Homo sapiens: one gene and its partner. The protein of the gene in region 2 interacts with the protein of the main gene of each other region in a pairwise test. Each region holds a gene or a part of one and is shown on either strand. Other genes may lie near its edges.

Evidence for each region. The genes of interacting proteins can lie anywhere in the genome.
Region 1: the proteins of RPS6KA6 (region 2) and ZNF746 interact in a two-hybrid assay, tested with the Homo sapiens proteins (one large-scale study listed by BioGRID and IntAct).

What each region holds. Positions count from the first base shown.
Region 1 is NC_000007.14:149,487,741-149,491,387, reverse strand, and holds part of ZNF746 (zinc finger protein 746), read left to right. Parts: intron 1-3,647.
Region 2 is NC_000023.11:84,186,030-84,189,776, reverse strand, and holds the start of RPS6KA6 (ribosomal protein S6 kinase alpha-6), read left to right. Parts: upstream 1-1,577; 5' UTR 1,578-1,877; coding exon 1,878-1,958; intron 1,959-2,317; exon of another isoform or gene 2,318-2,413; intron 2,414-2,429; exon of another isoform or gene 2,430-3,584; coding exon of another isoform or gene 3,585-3,716; intron 3,717-3,747. UniProt on the Homo sapiens protein: Constitutively active serine/threonine-protein kinase that exhibits growth-factor-independent kinase activity and that may participate in p53/TP53-dependent cell growth arrest signaling and play an inhibitory role during embryogenesis.

The DNA of each region.
Region 1 (3,647 bases), on a different chromosome or scaffold from region 2:
CCATGTGTGGAGGCTTCCCTCACTTCCACAGCATCATTCAATGAGAGTAAAGAGGGGCTGGAAATACGCTGGTTGCTGGTAAGACCCTGTAACACTCTCTAGCTGCACCGTATGATGTTCAGCAGCATCCGTGGCCTCTACCCACCAGTAGACAAGATGAGTAGACACAAACTCCACTGTCCATCCTGAGCCTGTTGGCAGGGATCTGTGTGGCGTTTATCCCTGTCCCCTTTGTCTGAGAAGCCAGGACTCCCAGCTCATCCCTTGCCACATTTGGCCTGACCCATCCCCTTGTGAGACCTCACCTCCCCTTCTCCTCACCTCCTGCACATCCCTCCACTGAGCCTTGTGGGACTCAGGGCTCAGCAGACCCGCCAGGTCCTGAGTGTTCCCTGCTCGGACTGAGCTCCAGGGGACTGCAGCCCTCTGAGTGCTTGTCATCCTCTTCCCTGCCTCTGTCTTGAGCCCAGGCCCACTGGGACAGGGTCCTCACCCCTCAGATTGTGCCTCTGCCAGCCTCAATCCCTCTCTAGAGACCTTGCCTTTGGGTCCCAGGCCTTGTCTTTTTGCTACTTCTGCAGACCTTCCCTCTCTTCTCAACACTCTTCCTGCCCTCAGTCTTGGCCATGGCAGCCTCCTTGTTGATTGTCCTGTGCCCCCCCAACCCATCCCACAGCCATCCGTGACTGTGACGACAGTGACTTTACCATACCCACCATCTCCATCTCCAGCACACCACTCCCTGGCCGCCTCCTGCCGTCCCTTCAATTCCGTCTGGTGTCCTGATTCCAGCAGTTTTCCAGTCCTTCAAGACCTGCAAGCCATCGACCCTGCTGCCTTTTCACTGCCCTGACTCATCCTCATTTCCCTCCATGCCCACCATTGTGGTCCCCCCTTACACACACCCTCAGCACTCTTGCCCCTGTTTTGTTCATTGTATCCACTTAGTGAAATCCATCGGTGTTCTGCACCTGCAGCCAAGCAGCTGCACGTGGCTGCAGAGAACCAGGTAAGCTGGCTGCTGGTGTCACGTGACATTCATGACCAGCGACTTCAGTGGGCGCTCTGCCACACAGTCACACCGTGTCTCCTTAGCCCAGGGGCCAGCAAACTGTGGCTGAGGGCCAAACCTAGCTCATCTGTTTCTGTATGGTGCACAGCTGAGAACAGTTTTATATTTTAACCCGTTTTTTAAAAGAGAAACGCACCACTCACACAGCCCTCTCCACGCCATCTGCCTGCACCAGTGCCCCCTTCTCTGCCTTCACTTCTGTGACTGCTAAACTGTCAACCCTCCAGCCAAAGCCCCACTTCGATCTGGCACCAGATCCCACCTCATGCCATCTTCTCAAGGGCAATACAAGCAATCCTGCCTTGACCTCTACCCCGGCAGCCACTGCCCGCTTGTCTGTTCCCCTTTGTGGCAGAGCCCTTGGGGACATCTGCGCTTGCTGTCTCCTGCACCTTCCCCCCCACTCTGTTACCCCTTCCACCAAAACCTCTCCAACCTCGGTTACCAGGGCCCTCCGTGGTCCTGAATGGTCTGTCTTCTTACTTGGCCTTGTCCCCTCTACTCTGCCACGTAGGCCCGTCATCTCCTGCCAGCCCCTCTCCTCCTGCCCTGATCCCCCAGTCTTGCCTCAGCCCAGCAGAGTAATCCCTTTTAGACCCAAGTCCTGGCTTTCCATCTGACCCGCACCGTCAGCTCACCACCTCCACTTTTCTCTCACTCTGCCCAGCTGCAGAGTGCTGTTCCCTGGTGCTGTTCCCTCCGCCCTGTGCCAGGGCCTTCGCAGTGCCCTCTACTGGGAATCCTCCTCAGGCAGGTCCCACCTGCAGGCCTTTCGTGTCATCGGCACTGCAGGCCCTCCCCACCCAGGACTCCAGGCCTACTTTCCTGCTTTGGGTCTTCCGTGTTAGACAGTGTCACATAATATATATGTTTCCTATTTATAGATTCATCGTATGTCAGGTCTCCTCCATTAGAATGTCAATTTCAAAAGTATAAAAATTTTTACCTGTTTAATCATTTTAGGAACCTAGAGTATTGCCTAGTACAGAGTAGGAATTCAATAACTATTTGCTGAATGTATGCTGTTTCAAAATTTAAAACGTGTGTGTGTGTGTGTGTGTGTGTGTGTGTGTGTGTGTGTGAAATAATGTATTTCTGATAGCATTTAAATTCCTTTTTAGGTCTCCCAGGCCTCCCTAGGAATTTTCTGTTTATTCTTTCTATCCACATTTTAAAACGTCTGCTGTGTACTTTGGTAGCTGTAAACAATATATAATACGGTTTTTTGTGTTCTGAAAAATTACATAGATGTCATTATATTTATCACTCATTATTCTGTATTTCAGACTTATCCATGTTGATACATGTAGATCAAGTTCATTCCTTTTAACAGATGCTTAATATTCCAGAAGCAACTATATTGTAACTTATTTTCCATTCCTCCACTGATTGGCACTTAAGCTTTTTCTGATTGTTCACTCTCACAAGCAATACTGTAGTGAGCGTTCTTGCGCCTGTTTTTTTGTGGCCCTGTGGGGATGCTGCTCCAGGGAGTAGACCCAGCGGTGGCCTCACCACGTCGTAGGCTTGATTTCATCTCTTCCGTTACTGTATGGCCCTCCCCAGGGGTACCCAGTGCCAGCGGGTGCTCCTAGAACTTGCTTCCTAACGTCTGCCCAGTTTCCATAATTACATTTTTGCCGACCTGATGGGGGTGAGATGGCCTCTCGTTTCAACTTGTATTTTCCCCCTTAAGTTGCACGCCCTTTTTATACGATTATTTGGCTGCTTCTCCAGTGAGTTGTCTTCTGTTTTTCTATTGAGATATTCTTCATTTTCTTCTTGATTCAGGGCTTCTTTGTATGTGTTCTAGATACAAATCCTTTGTCTATTATTTGTGTTACAAACATTTTCTCCGTGTCGGTGGCAGGTCTTTAACGTTGTAGTTCTTGTATGGAAGTTTTCACTGTTGAAAGAGTCAAACATGTCAGTCTTTTCCTTTATGATCTGTGCTTTTTCTGTAGTGAGATATCCTTGCTTACCTCACTCAAGGTCAGAAAGATACTCTTCTCTATTTTTTTTATAAATTTTTAAAAGTTTTGCTTTTCAAATTTAAGTCTTTAATTTATCTAGAATTAAAATTTGTGTAGCTTGCAAGGGAGGGTTTCAGTTTTTTCTCCCACAACGATGGTCTCATTTTCCAACAAAGTTTGCTGAATGTGTTAGCTTTTCTCCACTGATTTGTGATGCGATTCTGTCCTGAGCTGGTTTCTGCATGTGCACAAGTCTGTTTCTGGGTGCTTGCTTCTGTGTCATTGGTCTCTTTGTCAGTCTCTGCACCAACAGCTTGCTCTTTTAGCTTCATAATAAGCCTTGATATCTAGTAGACTAATCCTTCTCTGCTTGTTCTTCAAAAAACTGTCTTGGCTATTCTTGGATATTTGTTCTTTTATATGAATTTTGGGATCTGTATGTCAAGTTCCTAAGAAAATCCTGTTGGAAATTTGATTGGAATTGCATTGACTTTACAGTCTAATTTCTGGAGAATTGCTCTCATGACAACATTAGCCTTTCTACTCATTGGAACACTCATTTATTGAAGGCTTCTATGTGCTTGAATAAGATTTTACAGTTT
Region 2 (3,747 bases):
GGCTGAGTCAGAAGAATCGCTTGAACCCGGGAGGCAGAGGTTGCAGTGAGCCAAGATCGCGCCACTGCACTCCAGCCTGGGCAACAGAATGAGACTCTGTCTCAAAAAAAAAAAAAAAAAAAAGAAAAAGAAAAAAAGTTGGCCCTAGTTAATACTGTCAGTTCAGCCAAATATGAGTTTATGGGTGTGTGCGTGCACACACAGACACACACACTCTCACACATTTTCACGATTTATAGCCCCATGCACCCACTACTTTCGAAGCTTTGACTTTTAGAGAACCCTGTTCGTTAAGCTCACTTTCTCCTCGAGATTTTCAGCAGAGTAAGTGAGAGGACATTATCAGTTATCCTTGTTTGTAATTCAGTGCAATCTCTGTGGCCAGCTTTGCTTCATTAGCTCTTGAGACCAGATGATGAAATAAATGGAGGGCATAGGTCAACAGCCCTAGGTGTAGAAGGGTAAAGGGGGTGGTGTGCCTTTTATGAACGTTAGAAACCTCTCCAAGGTCCTGAGTTGGTTTAGCCGCTGTTACAGTTGCTCTTTTAAGTCTTTGAAGTGTCAAATGTGGAATAACTTTTAAACTTTCAGCTCTGAAGTGTTTTGATGAGAAGCATCTTGATTATCCCCCGTATAAGATTATACTTTATCTCTGTTATATCGCCAGCTCCCAGTACAATGTGTGGCTTAGAGTAGCGAAGTAGTAAAGCTCGCTTTGAAGAAGGTACTAAAAACTATGATTATTGTCACTACAGACCCAACATTCTCAGAGGGGGCTGGAGGATGGGCTAGCTTCGGAATCATGCCTTTGTTGCCACAAGTGGAGTTCATTAAGTGGCATATGTTTGCCTGTGTGTGTGCATGTGTGAAGAGAAACATTGTGTGTTATCAATAGTGTGAAGGCAACCAGCAGGAGCATCCTGAGAGGGACAAGTAAGGTGGGGGCTAGAGAGGACAGGTATATTTATTTTTTTAAATGGGGGTTATCCTGCCTTTACCTTCTAGGAGGATAATGTATGATGTACTAAAATCCCTGCCCTAGTATTTGTCACTAAGTATCGAAATGGGCGTGGTTTGGCATATAAGACACCTGCTCTTCGTGAGCCCTGCAAAGAGATACTCTTGGAGTCCTACCCTTACCCTGATTCCTCAAGTGCTCTGGAGGGTCCCCCAGTTCCAGCATCCTTTTTGAGAATCCTGCCGCCCGCCAGCAATGCTGCTCCGTGGACTTGAGAGGGCCTGCTGAGCATGTGTGAAGAGCGCTGCGCATGCTCCGTGGAGTGGGCAGGTTTACCGAGGCGCTAGCAGGGGCTTTTACTACTGTTCAGTCGCCTCCCCAGCCCAGCACGCCCCCCTCCCCTCTATCCCACCACCCACCACGCGGTCCCCCGCATCCACCCCGCCCCTCTATCCCGCCCCCTTCACCCCAAGCTGGGGAATCTCCATTGACGTTTGGGTGACGCCGCTGTGCCGCCGCCGTGGGGGGGTCCAGGCGCCGCACAGGTAACGCCGCCGCTGCCGCCATATTGACAGAGCAGGGAGCGGGGAGGGGACCCGAGGAAGTGGGGTGTTGGGGGAGTCACCACCGAGCGGCTGTCGTTGTGGTGGCAGTGGTGAGCGCGAGCCGAGCGGCAGCTCTTGGAGAGGCAGCACAGAGTTGTCTTCTCTATGGGAATCACCGGGCGGCGGCGGCGGCGACCCCCAGCTCCCAGCCTCTGAGAGACCCGGCGGCGAGGGCAGCGCTCGCTGAAGGCGGGGCTGGGGGTCGCGGCGGCGGCGGCGGCGGCGGCGGCGGCGGCGGGCCAGTTCAATAGACAGGATGCGCGGCCGCGCCAGCGGTAGGCGGCAGCTCCTGTTTGAGTGCTCCTGAAGGGGAGATGCTACCATTCGCTCCTCAGGACGAGCCCTGGGACCGAGAAATGGAAGTGTTCAGCGGCGGCGGCGCGAGCAGCGGCGAGGTTAGTGTGGTGGCCAAGACGGGCTGGAGCCAACCCCCGCCTCCTTCCCCTCAAGACCTTGGCTGGGGACGGAGAGAGGAGAGGCGTAGGGCCGGGAAGCGGGCTCCCGGGCAAGCCCCCTTGATGCTGCCTCCACTGCCCTTTCGCTGGGGAGCGGGCGGGGATGAGACGGCGGGCTCGGGCTTGCGGAGTGAGTGCAGCCTGGGCCCGGGCTCGGCCTTGGGCGGAGCGCCTGCCTGGCGGGCCACGCCAGAGTTGTTGTGACTAAGTTTCTTCACTTTCCGACCCGAAGGGGAACTGGGGGACTGGCGGGGTGCTGTGCCTGACTCCGCGCGTCCCTTTTTCTCCGCCGCGCCTAGTTTGCTGGCTGGGAACATTTTGGGGGACAGCTGCGGACTCCAGCTCGCTGTTGAACCCCGGACGCTTTACGAACCCAGTGCAACAAACACACCAAGGTGACTAAGTAACTCTGGGGACATTTGCACATAGGCACGAGTGTTCCCTGGTAACAGCTTTCTCGTTTCTCTGTGGCTTGTTATGGTTCCTTGTAATGACCCATGTCGAGATACACTGGCGACCTATCTCCAGTCGCCAGGTTTCAGGTGATGTTCTACTGCTTCCTCTCAGGTCCCCTTGATTCTACTGCACTCTTGCTCCACCCCTTCTCCTTTCCACAACCGCTGTCCCTGCCCCGTTGGTCTGTAAAAGAAGACGCAAAGTAAACCCCAGCCCTTATAAATAAGTCGAATCTTTGGTAAGACTTAGCGAGGTTCAACCAAAATACTTTGGTTCACCTCTCTTCCCACTCTTCTTACTCTGAAACTGTTCTGGTTGGGCTTTGGTCAGCTGTGCAGTGAGAACTTAGATGTACACAGGTGCTTTGTTTTTATTGTTGTTATAAAAGCGGGCAGCATTTAAACACAAAAACGTGTCTTTTGTGATAGAAAGTTGGATCCTTTTCTGATAACTTAATCGACTGCGTACTACTCCAGTAGAGGCCACCATACACCTCCTAAAAATAGTTGGTGAAATTGATTCACAGTAGGATATTTTGAGGTAAGACTCTCAATCCTCGACATCTAAAGGGTGCAACTTTGTCTTCAAGTACTTGCTCCATTTAAAAAAAATACACATTTGGCTGTTGTATGATTACCTTGTTTTTTTTTCTTTAAATTTTTTTGTTATTTATCAACTAAACTGGGGTTAAGATTACATGCTAGAATAACATGTGGTAAGGAATATAGTGGAAATAAATTCAGAAGTACCCTAAATCTGAACCCTCTATACTTACAGGAAATATTTTACTAGTAAACCAAGCAATTCCAATATACGTTTTAATATTTTACATCTCGTAAGAACAAGATAAATGAATAGGCGTTCCTTTCTTGTTGAAATGTGGGAATGCTAACTGTTTGCACAATTGTCTAGCAAGTCTATTGAAGGGGAGAGGAACTTTGTTATATTCATGTATGTAACTTACTGAACTTATAGGCATTTAGTTTATAAAAACAGTTAAATGCTTTGATATAAGGATGGGATGGGAGGTGGGAATCCTTTTGCATGCCTACTATTTTATTATTTCTGTTAACTTTGAATGTAGTATGTTTTAAATTGTAATTACCACATATGGTTTTTTTATTGTTTGCAGTATGTTTTAGGTATTGTAGAGATTTAACAATGGGTCTCTCTACCTCAGCAATTTGGAAAAATACTCGAGTGGAAATTGTTAATCCCTATGAAGTAAAACGAAAGGTGAAGGTAATGTGGTGAAGATAGTATTTCTGCCTTC